Regions from separate parts of the Homo sapiens genome. Here region 2 is linked to region 1. A link means that fine-mapping ties the variant in region 1 to the expression of a gene that starts in the linked region. Tissue or cell type: sun-exposed skin. Region 1 holds a variant in brackets; the other region holds the start of a gene. All regions are shown on one strand. Distances are from middle to middle.

Region 1 (8,101 bases):
CTGATTTTCCTTCAGGACCCTGAAGAGAGAGGAGGGACAGAGCAAGAGAAAGATGAGAGAAGAGAGGAAACTGAGGCGGATCCGCAAGGCGGTCAGACTGTCGGCTCTGGAGGCAGATGGCCAGGTTCGAAACTGATTCTGCCACCCAGTACCCACATGACCTTGAGCCTGACCTAATTTCCCAGGCTCAGCATCCTCTGCTGTGAAGTGGGGACAGTGTCACAGAACTTAGGGATTCGACCTGGCGATGTAAGAACGTGCTGACAGTGAGGCCTGGGTGCAGGGGTGGATGGCGGGTGCGGCTTCTGCAATTGCTGGCTTTGCTGTTGTCATGGTTACTGTTAGGCATCCAGGGGTGTCCTACAGGGAGCAACTCTCTGCACTGAGCTCTCTCCAGCGCCAAGTGCTGTTCCACCCTCCCAACGACCTTGAACATTAGGCCCCAATGAGACCCGCTTCCAGTTGAGGCAGCCAAGTTCCCAAAGATACAGTGACTTTTGCCCAGGGTCCCAGCTGCGCCTTGCAGGCCCTGAATCAATCCCAGCTGTTCTGGCTCCATGCCCAGGGCTCTTACCACCCCTGGCTCATGGTCCCCACTGATGACATGAGGTGGCAGGAGAGGATTTATAGGTTCTTCCCTATCTCTGAGATGTTGTGCGTCACTTGCGAGCAATTCCTGTGGGCATGTCCCTTGAACGGGCCCCTCCTCTCTCAGGGACTGGGCTGGAGGAGCCTCCTCACAGTAGGGAATTGTGCTGGAAAGGTCAGCTGCCTTCTCCCACTTTCCTTGGAGTCCCCAGGCCATTCCCTCTGACAGGCCACTCTGCCCCTGCCCCACAGGGCTTCCCAAAGAGATCCTCCGGCCTGATCTGCCCTGCCCTGCCCTGGGAGGGCAAATCCAGCTTTGTGTCCACAGTTGTCAGAGAAACTGCACAGCAAGGGTGAGTGAGTGTGTGCAAGTGTGAATGTGACAGTAAGAGACAGACACAGAGAGAAAGAGAAGAGAGAGAATCAATCCTGGGCCATACTAGGTCAGGATGGAGGGAGTGGGGCAGGCAGCGTTTCTGGCCTGGAAAGGACTTCTTGACTGCAAGCCTCAAAGGATCTAGAAAGAATGTCTATGCTCTTGGTAAGCACTAAGGAGCTGCTTTGATGTAATCCCTCTGGTTGCATTAACAGAGGCACCAGATGTAGAATGAAGGAGGTGATGTCCCATTTGGGAATAGGTATTGTACTTTAAGAAGAGGCACTGACTAATTGTGATAGAAGAGGGACAGGAAGAGGAGGTCCTAGAGGAACAAGGAAACATCTGGACCAACCCAGAGGACTTGGTTCCTGTCTGCAGATTTCTGCAGCTGTTCTGGAGGCAGGGCCAGCCATGTTCTCTAGGGTGGCCAGCGCATGAAAATTATGGGGCGGCTGGCTTTGATTCAGCACAAGGGAGAAATGTCTGCTCTAAAGACTAATGCGGCATCAACTATGATGCCAGAAAAGATGACGCTATCCCAAAGAGATGCACCAGTCAGACCACCCTGCGGTCCTCAGAAAGGCAGGAACAGTGGCCCGGGAAGGACCTCAGCACAGACTGCCTGCAACCCAGTGCCTGAGTCTACATGTACCCCTGGACAAATCCTGCTCTTTCTCTGAACCTTAGTTTCCCCACCTCTAGTATGGGACTAGCCCCGTGGCCTCCAGCCACATACAGCTACCGAACACTTGAAATCTGGCTACTATGACTGAGGAACTGAATTCTTAATATTATTTAACTTTAATTAATTTAAAATTAAATTTAAGGCTGGACACGGTGGCTCATGCCTGTAATCCCAGCACTTTGGGAGGCTGAGGTGGGTGGATCACTTGAGGCCAGGAGCTCAAGACCAGCCTGGCCAACATGGCAAAATGCTGTCTCTACTAAAAATACAAAAATTAGCCAGGTATGGTAGTGCACGCCTGTAATCCAGCTACCTGGGAGTGCCGAGGCATGAGAATTTCTTGAACCTGGGAGGTGGAGATTGCAGTGAGCACCACCGCACTCCAGCCTGGGCGACAGAGTGAGACTGTGTCTCAAAAGAAAAAAAAAAAAAAATTAAAAGTTGACACACCCAATTAGGTTGCTACAAAACTTGTTTGGAGTAACTTGGGTATATGAACCTACATTGTCAACTGTAAATTTTATGAAATCTAAATACAGATCAAGTATTTCCAATGAAATTTTATATACAATGAAAATCTAAACACGGATCAGGTATTTCCAATGAAAATTCACATCTGAATTGAGTATGCTATGAAAATATACTATACACTGGATTTCAAAGACTTACTACAAAAAGAGTGCTAAATATCTTATTAATGATTTTTATATTGATTATATTTTGAAATGATAATATTTGGATATATTGGGCTAAATAAACTATATTATTAAAATTAATTCCTTTTTAAATTTGAGACAAGGTCTCTCTCTGTTGCCCAGGCTGGAACACAGTGGCTCAATCTCAGCTCACTGAAGCCTCAACCTCTGGGACTCAAGTGATCCTCCCACCTCAGCCTCCCGAGTAGCCAAGACTACAGGCATGCACCACCACGCCCAGCTAACTTTTTAATTTAATTTAATTTAATTGTTATAGAAACAAGTTCTCACTATGTTGCCCAGGCTGGTCTTGCACTTTTAGGCTCAAACAATCCTCCCACCTTGGCTGCCTAAAGTGCTGGGACTACCAGCATGAGTCACTGCACTGGCCCTTAAAATTGAAGTTACCTGTTTCTTTTTGCTGTTTTTAAAGGTGGCTACTAGAAAATTTAAAAGGAGTGGCTTGTATATGGCTTGTATTTCATTTCTATCGGACTGCACTAGGCAATCTCAAAGTCTCCAGCTCCTCCGGTAATAAAACACCAACAATCCCTACAACCCTCACCACGGGCCATGTGCTGTGTTCTCATTCCACATAAATGTTTGTTCAATTCTCGCCAGTGTTTGGAGGAAGGGATTATTTATCCCGTTTTGGAGCTAAAGGAACTGAGGCTCAGTGAGAGGAAGCCCTCTGTGGGCCTCCCAGCCAGGTCAGAAGTGACAAGCAGCTCCTCCACTTCTGGGGCACCTCTCCTTCCAGGCTGGTCTTGGTCAGGCAATGGGGAAGCCATGTCACAGTGATTGGTGGCATTTTCCAGTGCACTGAGGTGGCGGCAATGGCTGACTGATCCCTTGCAGAAGGCGAGATGAGTCAGTGCTGAAGCATCCGGTACAGG[G/A]GCAGGGAGACGGGAGGCTGCGTCTCCCCTGGGACAGGGTGCCACTTGCTGGGACGTGCCCTCTCCAGCCGAGAGCATACATACAGTGGGTGAGGCTGTGGGTCCGGAATGAATATTTCTGCTGGGCCCCATCCATATAGATGCATTTCTGGAAAGGCCCCGATGGCTCATAAAATTCTGTTTTTAAATACTCAACTGTTTCCAGGCCACAGAGTGGGAGGTATTTATCCTGATGCCAAAGAGACTCAAGTAAGGCCCCTCACTGCCTTATCACTTGGCACACACTTCGTCTGGCCCAAGTGACTCTCCTTCCAATCCCGGCATATGAGAAATGGGAGTGATGGCAAAATATTGACATTAACACAGCTACCACCACCACACCACTACTATCATCATCATCACCATCATCATCACCACTACCTACGCCATACCACCATATCATCATCATCACCACTCCCACCCCCACCACTGCCATGACCACCATCATCACTCCCCTGCCATCACTACTACCATCACTACCACCCATCATCACCACCACTACCACTATCATTAGTACCACCACCACCATTATCACCACCACCATCACCACCACCATCATCAGTGCCCCATCATCATCATTATCATTACCACTATCACTATCACCACCACCATCGCCACCAGCACCATCATCACCCTCACCTCCACTCCACTATCACCATCGCCACCAGCACCAGCACCACCATCACCACCTCATCACAGTCACCACTACCACCACTACCACCATCAACACCCCCATCATCTTCATCATCATCACCACCACCAACACCATCATCAGTACTACCACCATCACCATCATTATTATCGTCATTACCACCACTACCATTGCTGCTGCCCCCACCCACACCATCCACTCACCATCACCACCAGCCACCACCAGCCTCTAGTCACTTTCTCCTCTAAATTTATAAAGACAATCTTCTATATTTCTGGTGCATTTTATAAAGTGCTTTCCTACCCTAAGTTTTATTTATTCTTTATAGATAAGAAAACCAAGGCTCAGAGAGGGGCAGTGATTTGCCCAAAGTCACACAGAGAATGGGTTACTAGAGCCAGAAACTCAAGTTCAACCTCAGGACTCTGGTTCCAAGGCTATTTCTGCCATGTGTTCCTGCCCATTCCACAGCCATGATACTCAACACTCACTAAAAAAGGGTCCCTAGAACGCTGGAGCTCAAAGTAATCTTAGCACACATTCCTTCCAAACCCTCCAAGGGCAAAACCAGAGAGGGCAGGGGGCGGGTGAAAGGTCGCAGACCAAGTTCCTAATGCAGAATCCTGGCCCGGGACCCTCCTGCTAAATTCCCCTTGGCCTACTTCCCCGCCGCTGAGTCAAGCCCGCCACTGAGTCAAGCCTGGGGGAAGCCTCCTGGCTGACTCAGCGCCCTCGTATTCTTCTCTAGTTTGGTGAGTTCATTCTGTTGCAGCTGTTTAGGGGGATTGGCACTTCAGTGCTATTTTTAGGAAACAAATATTTTCCCACAACCATAGTTTGTTGCAGGCTAACTTGGATCTGTCCTAGGTTAGTCATGTAAACACTTCAGGGGGGAAAAACAGTGTCAAGAGCAGGCCTGAATCAAACTGGGCTGCTTTGCCTAGGTAACAACGTCAGTCTCTCCGCTTGAGGGATGAAGAGTGAAAATGACACCCCAGGGAGACTGGGATGGCAGCAGAGGCATGAGTTCTCACCACCTGGTTGGCTCAAGGTAGATGCCAGCAGGCCTGTGCATTTGGGCATTTTGTCTACGAGGCCACCTAATCCACGGGTCCCAAGGAGTTCAACTGAACCGACCCAGCACTCCTGGGTCACACAAACCCTGCTCAACTGTACAAGACTACCACTGCCCCCCACTACCAAGTCAAGTTCCGAGTCATCAGTCCAGTATTTGCGACACTCAAAAATCAAGCTTCCACCTGCCTCCAGCTCATCCTCACAGCCCCACAGCCAAGCCCTGGATTCCAACTCTGCCAGAGCACAGGGGCAGTATGCGTAGAGTCATGCAGGCCTAAGTTCAAATTCCAGCTTTGTCATTTCTCACTGTGTGAGCCTGGGAAGTTTCCTTTACCTCTCCGATTTTCCCAATCCTCAGGGGTTGCTATCGGTATCAAAGAGGGAACCTTCGAGAAAGCATTGGGCAACTTGTCTGTACATGTTGAAACAGGAGAATTCTGCTCCCTTCCCTACTGGCTTCTATGTCCCTCAAAGTCAGGGATGCTTTCTGATTTACCTCTTCAATCTCAGGGGACCTGGCCCAGGGAAGATGCTCGTGAGGGTCTGTGGACTGACTAAGTACATTTCTGTTAGGGTGGAAGAGCAGAGTTCCTCCGTCTTCTCAATCAACAAACAGACTTTGGTCACCTCTTATGTGTCAGGTACTGGTTTTGTTGTTGTTGTTGTTTGTTTGTTTTTTTGTGACAAAGTCTTGTTCTGTTGCCCAGGCTGGAGTGCAGTGGCGCAATCTCAGCTCATTGCAACCCCCGCCTCCCAGGTTCAAGTGATTCTCCTGCCTCAGCCTCCTGAGTAACTGAGACTATAGGCATGCGCCACCATGCCTGACTAATTTTACATTTTTAGTAGAGACGGGGTTTCACCATGTTGGCCAGGCTGGTCTCCAACTCCTGACCTCAAGTGATCCACCCGCCTTGGCTGCCCAAAGTGCTGGGATTACAGGCGTGAGCCACCGCACCTGGCCAAGGCACTGTTAAAGACGTAAATGAAGGCCAGAAAAGGTCTTGGTCTTCATGGAGCCAAGACATACACTGAAGGTTATGCATGTCCCTGAGGGCTCATGGCCCAGCCTGGGGGCAGGAATGGCTTTTTGGAGCAGGTGATGTCTATGGTGATACCTGAAGGCCAAATAGAACTTAAGCAGGTGACAGGGGAGTGAAGAAGGGAGAGTGTCCTAGACAGAGCACATGCAAAGGCCCAGGGGTAAGGGCCACAGCTTGTCCAAGAAACTGAAAAAAGTTTAGTGTGTCTGGATATGGGGGATGGATGAGATGAGGTCGGCAGGGACCAGGTTTGCACAGGGCAGGGCAGCCAGGAGGATGAGTAACCGAGGTTGTTCTCCAGAGCCATGGAGCATTGAGCAGATTGGTTCTCTGGCAAACTGCCAGGTGGAGAAAGGACCACAGCAGAAGATCCTTCAGTGGCACGACCAAAAGCCCTCCCGCCCAGCCGCCTGCACAGGCATGAGAGTTCAGGGTACCCCAGAGCTCCAGGCGCTGCAAGGGGCCTGCACACTCACCCGGACACCAGTGACGCCAGGGGGGCCGGGGGGCCCGTCCTCACCCATCAGCCCTTCCTGGCCTTTCTCGCCATGTTCTCCATCAGGCCCTGGGTCTCCCCTGTCCCCCTGGGTGGCAGGGCATGAAGAGGGGAGAGAGAGAGAGAATAAGTTAGTTGCCAAGTGCATCAGAGGCCCCAAATCTCAGGGCTCCATTCAGGCATCCACAGCCAACTGGTCCCTAGATTCTCGATAGTTCCCTCTGCAGCCAAAAAGGCAGGGTGCTGTGACTCGGCTGCCAAGCCCAGTGTAGCTCTAAGCTTGCACAAGGATGCATCCCAGACGTAGAGGCTCCCATGTGTCCCTGCCTGGGCCTGGGCTGCGAAGGGCAGAGTGACTCAGAGATAAGCCGGGGTCCTGACTGCACCCACCCCATGGAGTTCACAGGAGACAAGGGCAATTTCTCTCCAACTTAGACACATTGGGAGAACAAGAGTCTTATGAAGCAGATTTTTTTTTTTTATTTTTTAGACAGAGTCTCACTCTCTCCCAGGCTGGAGTGCAGAGGCGCAATTATAGGTCACCGCAGCCTCGACCTCCTGGGCTCAAGCAATCCTCCTGCCTCAGCCTCCCAAGTAGCTGGGACTACAGGCACATGCCACCATGCCCAGCTAATTGAAAAAAAATTTCTTTTTTTGTAGAAATGGGGTCTTGCTACAAGAGAGCTTGAGCCCAGCAGTTGGAGACCATTGACCAGGCTGGTCTCCAACTGCTGGGCTCAAGCAATTCTCCCACCTCAGCTTCCCAAAGTGCTGGGATTACAGGTATGAGCTGCTGCAACTAGCTGAAAGAAATTTTCATCAAGAAAGAAAATTCACCCAATTCTCCTTCTCAGAACCACTCTTTCCATTTTTCTGAGTTGTATTTTCAATCCTCGATGACAAAAACACAGTGAATAATAATAATAATAATAAATGGTAGGTAACAGTTTGGATGGTATGTACCAGGCTCAGGGCAGTGAAGCAACTCTCCCAAGGCAATGAATCGGACAGCAGTAAACTAAGCTCTAAAGGCACAATCCCACTGGACTGCTGGTCTCCATCTTTGTTTGTTATAGTTACTGCTTTGCTCTATGGTGAACGTGCCCTCCTATCGCTCTGGGCTCTGCATGGCGATCATTCTTATTGGCTGCAGAATACTTTCTCTGGGGAGTGGATGGAGCTAACATTTATATAGCACTAACCATGTCAGGACCATAGTCTGAGTCCTTTAACATCTATTAACTGACTTAATCCCCACAAAAGCTTTCTAAGGCTGGTCCGCTTTTAGTCCCATTTTACAGAAGAGGAAACTGAGGCAGAGCTAAATCAAGTGGTCTGGCCCAGAGGCCCACAACTGGCTAGCGGTGGAGCTGGACTTTGAAGCAGGATCCTGAGCGTATCCTCTTTACAGTGATAGGGCTGTAACCAAGGTCTTCTTGGGGCTTCGGACCTTTGGGGCACCTGAGGTTATTTCCTTGGAAAGGCAACCCTTGGCATGGGCTTTTTTTTTTTTTTTTTAGACGGATCTCATTCTGTTGCCCAGGCTGGAGTGCA
Region 2 (8,089 bases), 120 kb after region 1:
GCCTTCCTGTGTTCCTGCGATCCCATTTATTTCTGTTCCATCTCCTTCCAGCCCCCTCTCTTCCTGGCCCTTGTCTGGCACCTGCCCTCACTCCTTGAGTCCTTCATTGGATTATGTCACATACCAAACTTCCTAGGAAGTTTCCCAAACTGATAAAGAAAGGCGAGGTGGGGAAGAGAAGGTACAAAAACGACACATGTCCTTCTCGGTCAGTTTCCCTGGCTACAGCTATACCAAAATGACTACTCTGCAGAGAATTAGAGGGCAAATCCTTGTAATCTCTGAAAATCAGGAAGAAGAAGTCCACAGGAGACATGGAATCAGAATCTTCTCTTCAATTAAGCTTCCTAACACCATGGCTTCCAACTTGAGGACTTCAGCCCTGAAGGCCTATTACAGAAGTATTCAACCTCCATTCATTCTCCCTGACAAATGCAGCTGACCCTCTTGGAAATGGATTCTGTGTGCACTTGACCCATAAACTTCCCAAGTATAGAGCATGTCAGAGTGGAAGAAGGCCATTTAAGATCATCTAGGGGTCAGATTCTAGTCCTCTCTCTCCCTTCTTTGAAAAGATGCGTAACTGAGGCCCAGAGAGGGCAAGTTACTTGCCCGAAGTCACACAGTGCTTCAAGTCTATGACTTAACAGATAGTCCTTTTCATTTGACTTGTCTCCATGGAGCAGAAATTGGAGACTTGCAGGGACTTCCTACTTGCCAGAGACCCGAGCCCCAGCCTTCACCAGCAGGAACAGAGATGCAACCCAGGGAGCCAACGAGCCATCTAAGTCAGCTCCAGGCCTGGAAAGTTGGCTCTCAGAGGGAGGCCCTGCCGATTCTTTTGCTCCCGTTCCAATCCTGTTTAGGCTACTGCTAATCATGGTTAGTGCCTGTGCTGGCTCAGGGCTTTGTTCTTCCAGACTTCTGTTTTCACCACTTGTCTTGTGGGCCTTGTCTCTGCAAACCCAGGGCTCCAGAATGTCAGGAAGACCAGAGCACAGAGGCCAGGGAGGCCAGGAGGCAGCCGAAACGGGAGCCGCGAGGAAACATCACATGGAAACATCGTCTGGCCACACAGCCCTCCAAAGAGGAAACCCAGGTGTTTCTATGCCCTTGCAAAAGGCCCTCTGCCAGTGCACCAAATGGGGCTACTCCTGGGTAACCACACTGCCAGAACCGGCAGACTGCTTGGATAGTTTTCTTCCATCCTTATTACCTGGAAACACACAGGATCTTAGAAACCCACACCAGCTTCAACAGTCACTGAGGGCTCTGAGCTGAGACCCAGGCCACAGAAACACACAGGGAAAGTGGCCCTGTGGACACTAGGCTTGGCTGTTCACGCATGGGGTAAAAGCTGAAAAGGGAGCTAGCTGGAACTACAGCTCATCAAGTGGGGTGGACCTGTCCCACCTGCCTCCATGGACTGGCCAGACCCCCTGTGCCCAGACGGCTATGCCTGGGCTTTCTTCACAGCTTCCACGTCCTCCATGGGAACACAGACAGGTCATCGTCTGGAGAGGATGCAGCCCAGAACTTTCCCATTGACTCACACACCCATTCAACATGAAGGGAATAATACAAATACCAGCTGCCGTTTACTGAGCACTTATTACATGCCAGGCCCTGTTCTAAGCCCTTTACAAGCATGGTCCTGTTCATCTTCACAAAACCCAGCCAGCTAGGAATAAGGTGCCGGTTTTGTGGAAGAGAAAAACAAGCAGCAGAGTGGCTCACCCAAGCTGGCACAGCAGAGTTAGGATTCAAACTCGAGCCTGCCTGATGGCAAGCCTCATGGCCCTCCTGTGGTGCCGCCTGCCTCCCACCAACATGATTCTGTGAGTGTCTCACTGCTGTCCCCTACCACCAGTGGATATGTTACTCTGCGTAGCCAAGCCAGGCATGTGGGTATCAAGAGGGTCCCTGGACAGAGATGGAGGAGAGAAAATGCCAACAAAGAACAGGGGAGTGTGCTCAGAAAGGGACAGAGACCACCAGGAGGCTGCTGGCTGCTGAGGGTCCGCAGCGCTGGTGGAGGCACAGGAGAGGGAGAATGTTCTGAGTACAGGGAGGAAACAGAAGGAGGCAGAGGCCAGGGATGTGTCCATAGACATGACATGGAGTTTGGTCCGGCCAGAAGGGTCCAGGAGCAGAGGCATGCTGGAGAGCAGAGGCATGCTGGAGAGCAGAGGTATGCTGGCGCCAGAGCGCACATGATGCAGGACAACGTGATGTCAAGGGAGGCAGGGAGGCAGGAGAAGGCAGAGACTGGGCCTCCGAGCAGTGTTGACTGCCCACTTGCCCACAGCTGGAGCCCCACCATGGGGTGCTCGCCTGGCACCACTTTTCTGCCCAACTGCTGGCATCTACCCTGGCGCAGGGTCTTCTGGAGAAAATGAGTCAGCAGTGTGCTCACTGGTGCCGCGCGCGCGTATGTGTGTGTGTGTGTGTGTGTGTGTGTGTTGTGGTGAGGGGGTGCGGGGCGGGGGAATCGCAAACAGCCAGCTTTTTCCAAGACATGGGGAAGAAAGGAGGGGGTGTCATCCCGCGGACTCCAGCTCAAAGGGGGCAGGGCCCAGCTACAGCCCTAACAGCCTCTGGGGAGTGTCCTGGTGTCCTGGGGGCAGGATGGAAAGAGAGGAGCGCCGTCCACAGGCCCCAACGGGCTGCTTGCATGCTGCTGGCTCCCACACACACCCACACGCTGCGCCGGCTCCAGCACAGGCTCACTCTCTCTTACAACTCCTACTCCACACGCTGGGAATCCCAGCCTCTGGGCCCCAGCTCCGCGCAGCCGCTCCTGGGAGAGTCCCTGCCCCTCTCCGGCCCTGTCTCCCGATCTGTACACTGAGGGGTTCCGCACAGTGATCGCCCAGGGCCCTTTCTGCTCTGACATGCTGGCTCTCACTTTTTCTCTCTTACACACGTGAAAGGGACAGGAACCGAGAAGCAGGAAACACAGACACACAGACCCAGGCCGACTAACACAAACACGCGGAGATTTCCAGAAACGCGGGGACGTGCAGAGCCACACAGACACGGAGACAGGAGCAGAACCCGAGACCTGGTGACCTAGAAACTTGCGGACAATTTCACAAGAACAGATAGAAACGGAGACGTACAGGCTTGGGACCTGCAGACACTGAGACACCGGAACACACCGAGACGGCCCCAAACGGAGACCCCCCTCCTCCCCCAAGCATCCAAAAAGCCCCCCTCCGCACCCCGCCGGCCGCTCCAGGCGCCACCACCCACCCCCACCCCCGACCCCCGGGCTGGCTCTGCCCCCGCCCCAACGGGATCGGGCAGCCGGGCCAGGCGCGGCAGGGCGGGCAGCGTTCGCCAACTCTCGCCCGGCCGGGGGCGCAGCCCCTATTAACCCTTGGCGTCCCGCCTCGCGGGGGCGCAGGAAGGGGCAGGAAGCTGACGTTCCGCTGGAAGCGACCGCATGGCGGGGAACCCCGGCCCTCCCCGAGATTGGAGCAGCAGGAAGCTAGGGAGGGGGCGTCCCCGAGTTCGTACTCACCCCCCGCGCGCCGCCGCCGCCGCCGCTGTGCCTCGGGCCCCCCGCGCCGATCCCGCTCCCATGGCAGGCCCCTACTTCATGCTCCCGAGCCCGGGGGGCAAGTGTGGGCGCGCCCCATGGGGCCGCCAGCCCCCCGCCCCGCCGCGCCAGGCCGGCTTAGAGCGCGCGGCCCCCGCGCCCCCAGCGCAGCCCCGCGCCCAGGGGCGCCCGAGCAGGCAGGCAGCGCGGCTGGGGCCCCGCGGGCGCCCGCGCCAGGCCCATGGTCCCAGGAGTCCGGGCGCCGCGCTCGCCCCTGCCTCGGTCCTTTTCTGCTTCCACCAAAAAGGAAGAAGAAGCAAGAAAAAGAGAGAGAGAGATGATCAAACTTTTGGAGGCGGGCTGCTGGCGGTCCCCGGAGGCAGAGCAAGGCCGGGTGAGGGCGCGCGGAGGGCGGTGGAAGCTGCCTCCCCGCCGGCCTGGGGGAGGAGAGGAAAAGGAAGGATTTGGGGGAAATGAAGGCGATTTAAAGTCTCGGCCCGCGGTGGCTCTCCACCTTCCCTCCTCCCCGCTCCCGGCCGCCCTCTGCTGCCCCCTGCTGCCCCCTGCCGGCCGGAGCCAAGGGTACAGCCTCAGCTGGCCCACTACAGCCCCGATGGGACACCCGCCCCCCTCCTCCTTGTATAGATGGGGAAACAGATTCACAGAGAGGAAGGGGCTGCCCAGGGCTTCACGGTGATTTGATCACCGTTCTGAGATTAGGAACTTCTGACTGGTGAGGCTGGGGGTCCTCCAATGGGGGGTTGGGGTAGGGGAGAAGGGCCAAATTCTACTCCTGGAAGAAACCCACAGTTTCAGGGACGGAGCTAGGACCAGAACTTGGTGTCCAGACGCCCACGACAACCAGTATCGTGATCCCCACCGCCCACCAAAAGTTTGCGCTCCCAGACTCGGAGCGCCCTGGAGAACATATAGGGTGGGCTTGTTAAGGGTTTGCCACCCTCTCTCTCCCTTCTGTCAGCAATTGGAATCTAACCGCACCCCACCACCACCACTAACCACGCACCTCCCCAGAATCGACAAAAACTCCCTCGGATCCCATCCGGGAGCTAAGAGCTGCACACCTTGGCCCCCGGGCAAATTCTCACACCCAAAACTCCAGTCCAGCCCTGGGACCACAGCTCCCTCCGCCTCTACCACCTCTTGCCACTCGTTCACGAGCAAAGTTACACTTATTCACCGGTGCACACACACACTCCCACACGTATCCACCCTTTCCCCAAACTCAGACACACGCTCACACACGGTCCCATTCTGGGACAGCCACGCACCCTTCCTAGGTTCACACGAAACGCATCCTCAGATATCTGGGCTCAGGCGCACGCTGATACTCTACACTCGCAGAAGCATGCACACGGATGCTTACACAGGCACAAATGCACGCTATCCTGGCCATATCGCCCCCACACATGTACACACCCCGGGTGGACACACGCGCGCACACCCTCACTTGCACACAGTTCTCCGAGAGTGCCCACCGCACATGTGCACACACGCATTCACTCCTCACGCGTGTACCCACCTCCCCATACGCGCACACCTTTAGGCGCGCGCACACACAGGCATATAACACTTCGCACCGCTCCAGGAGCCCCCAAGCACTTACTGGGTCCCTACGTGCGAGGCTGGCCGGTCGGTCCTTCCTCCGGCGCCTAACGGCATTTGTATTCATGGGTCCCCGCAGCCGTGGGCGCGGGGGCGGGGGGCGAGGTCCCCTTCCCTAAACGGGGCGCGGGCGCGCGGAGCGCAGCGGCACCGGGAGGGGCATGGGCGCGCGGGACTGCGCCGCCGACCCGGTCCGCCTGCGCTCGAACTTCGGCAGCTCTGCGTCCACGGGCTCCGGCGCGGGCTCCGAGAGCTGGGGGCGGCTCATAGGTGCTGGGGCGGCGGCGCCCGCCGGGCCTTTTGAAGTCTCCGCTGGGGGCGGGGAGGGGGCGCTGAAGGCGGCCTTTTAAACCCTGGCTGCACGCGGGCTCGGTCGAGCAAGGTGTCTGGTTTCAACAAACTTTAGGAAAAGTCCCAAGCCGAGAGAGGGGAGGTAGGGGGGTTGGGGGAGCTGCATAGCTGTGCGCTGCTTCCTGCAGAGGGCAGAGCACCCATGGCTGCCAGGAGGGAGGCCAGTCGCGGGACTGGGGAACTGGCAGGCTGCTGGCCGGCGCGTGGAACCACCCCCGCCACCCCCGCACCCCCAATGTTGAACCAGAGTTCTTAACTTCCATGTGCACGAACCCCAGGGAGTGCAGGAACACCCCCAAACTGTGCACAAATTGAGCATGTTTGTGCATTCTTCAGGGGAGAGGGGCCGTGGGCTTTCCTCCGGTTTTCAGAAGTCCACGGCCCCCTAAGGTTGAGAACTCCCTCTTCAATCATAACTGATGTTTTTTTAGTTGCATACTTGGTACCATGCAGACCCTGTCTTTATTTACATTTTAGATATTTTGTTCATTGTGGGGTTTTGCATTAATTTTGATACTTTTAAAAATATTTTAAAAGTAAAAAATTAAAATATTATTTTGATTACTTAGGGGTTTGGGGCACTGCTTTGGGCAATTTACCTCCGTTGCTGAGTTTTCTTGGCATCTCCTGGTATGCTGCATCTCTGCATGTGCCACACCCTAGTCCAGACCCTGACCCACACAGTGCTGGGGTTTAAGGGAGGCCTGCTTTTTTCTCTCCATTTACAGATGGGAAAGCTGACATAAACGGGTAGGTGGTAGAGGTGGGATTTGAACCCAGGTAACCTAACTCCAAACTTCTGCATCTTGTCATAAGGATCCAAATCTTAGGCTTTAAGGGGTTCTGTGCAGATCCTCAGCAGCCTCCCCAGCTTCAGATCCGGCCTCCTGAGCTCCAGTCTCTCTGATACCTGCACCCAGGCTCAGGTAAGCTTGACTACTTCGATGCTTTCTCCATACTGTTTCCTCCCAGGTTCTCCCTCTGCCCCTTTTCTGCCTGTTCACAACCTGGTTATTCTTCTAGGTGCAGGCCAGAGCTCACCTGACTCTGGTGAGCTGCTCTGCCCTACACCGGGATTGCAGCACACATCACATGGCGCTGTCATTGTCAGATCCATCTCTGTGTCCCCACACCCAGCCTGACACATGGAGCCTGGGATACAATAGATGCTCAAACCGTTGGTAATTTAAATAAGTTATTTGTTTTAACTCCTACAGTATGCAAACCCCTGTACAAGACTCTGGGGGAAAAGGGTCTGCCACTGTGGGGGCAGGGACAAAAATTTCCATATGGTCCTGCCTTCTGGTCATGCACGCATTTGTAATGTGGACAGGAGACACGCACAGCAACTTGGGGTAGGGAAGAGAGTCTGGATGGGAGACATCAGACATCACTATGTCATGGAGAACCCCCTGCAACTGCATAAAGGTAAGATAATATAAGGAGAATGTGATAAATGCCACCAAAGAGATGCAGATCAATTGAATTGTGAAGCTGATTAAGGGATGGAAAGAAACCGAGGAAGGCCCCCAGGAGGAGGTGGCATTTGGATCTTAAAGGGTGTGTTGGATAAATGTGCAGCCACAGAGGAGAAGGACATCTCCGGTGAAAGAGTCACAAAAAGACCAAGAGGACAGAGTTGGATTTCAGGCAGGTTTTGAAGGAGGATTGAGGCGGTGGGGCCCAGTGAGAAACTGGGGAAACTGTCCAGTTCTCCCCACTGTATTGTGTGGGTGATACCACACGACTCACTGTCCACAAAGCCATTTCCAGGCAAGGGACTGCATTTCCTGAAAGGTCAGGCAGGCAGCAGGTCAGTGGCTAAGCACCAAGGCCTTTCCAAATTTCACTCACAAATGTGAATAGGCAAGGCTTAGTGCCAGGGAATGCTGCCTGCTTCACCCAGGTCAGCCCAAAAGACCCGTGAGAATGCTATGAGAACCCAAAAGGATTGAGGACATCCCCTCTCAGAGCCTCACTCTGCCCATCTGTAAAATAGGTGCATCAAACGTGATGATCTGTGTGGGCCCTTTGAGCTTGGAGGCATGAGACTGTCCTTCAACAAGAAATCCAATTATGTATGTGAATATTGAGGGCTAACTGCATTTTGCTAGGTCGGGAGGGAAATGAGGCTCATGGCCTTCCAGGAGCTCATGGGCAGCTGAGAAGAGGAGGCAGGGACACTGGGGAGAATTCCAAGGAAGGGCCTTGTATCCTGCCTCTGCCGTCTCCCCACAAGCAGTCTTCCTGCCAGGCAGGTTCTTGGCGCAGAGCCAGTGACTGGGCATGAACTGTTCTGATGGACGTTGAATCTGGAAGACACCAAGCCATTACCCACCCTTCAAAGGGGACAGCACACTCACCAAACAGCCCTAAGGGGCCCATTTCTATGGGGCAGAAGGCAGTAAGCCTGGGAACCAGGTGGGCAGGGGCTGCCAGGCCTCTGTAGATGCCTCAGGATGAGAATTCCTGGCCTGGTGGGGACTTTCAGGGAACACATAGTTTGTTCCCTGCTCAAGCAGCTCAGCCATGGACCCATCGGTCTCTGTGGCACATCTGCCTTAGGAGAAG

What was found. PIP is the estimated chance that this variant, and not a neighbour inherited with it, causes the effect.
Region 2: COL27A1 starts here. The variant in region 1 is fine-mapped to the expression of COL27A1 in sun-exposed skin (GTEx, PIP above 0.99). The same link has a PIP of 0.9 or more in esophagus mucosa and unexposed skin.

Annotation. Positions count from the first base shown.
Region 1 is chr9:114,274,195-114,282,295 of GRCh38, reverse strand. It overlaps COL27A1 (collagen type XXVII alpha 1 chain), which reads right to left. Exons shown (of 61, transcript NM_032888.4): 37 at 6,528-6,635; 38 at 1-19. Among named protein-coding and RNA genes, the nearest start is that of ORM1, 45 kb to the left of the region's middle. RefSeq lists enhancers at 195-1,007, 4,499-5,698. The variant G/A (reference allele first, on the strand shown) is at 3,244.
Region 2 is chr9:114,151,450-114,159,538 of GRCh38, reverse strand. COL27A1 (collagen type XXVII alpha 1 chain) reads right to left here and starts at 4,002. Exons shown (of 61, transcript NM_032888.4): 1 at 3,527-4,002. The coding sequence starts at 3,588. It overlaps LOC105376225 (a long non-coding RNA gene), which reads left to right and starts at 5,271. Exons shown (of 5, transcript XR_930256.3): 1 at 5,271-6,444; 2 at 6,542-6,699; 3 at 6,852-6,946. RefSeq lists silencers at 2,836-3,130, 4,018-4,137 and an enhancer at 5,674-6,195.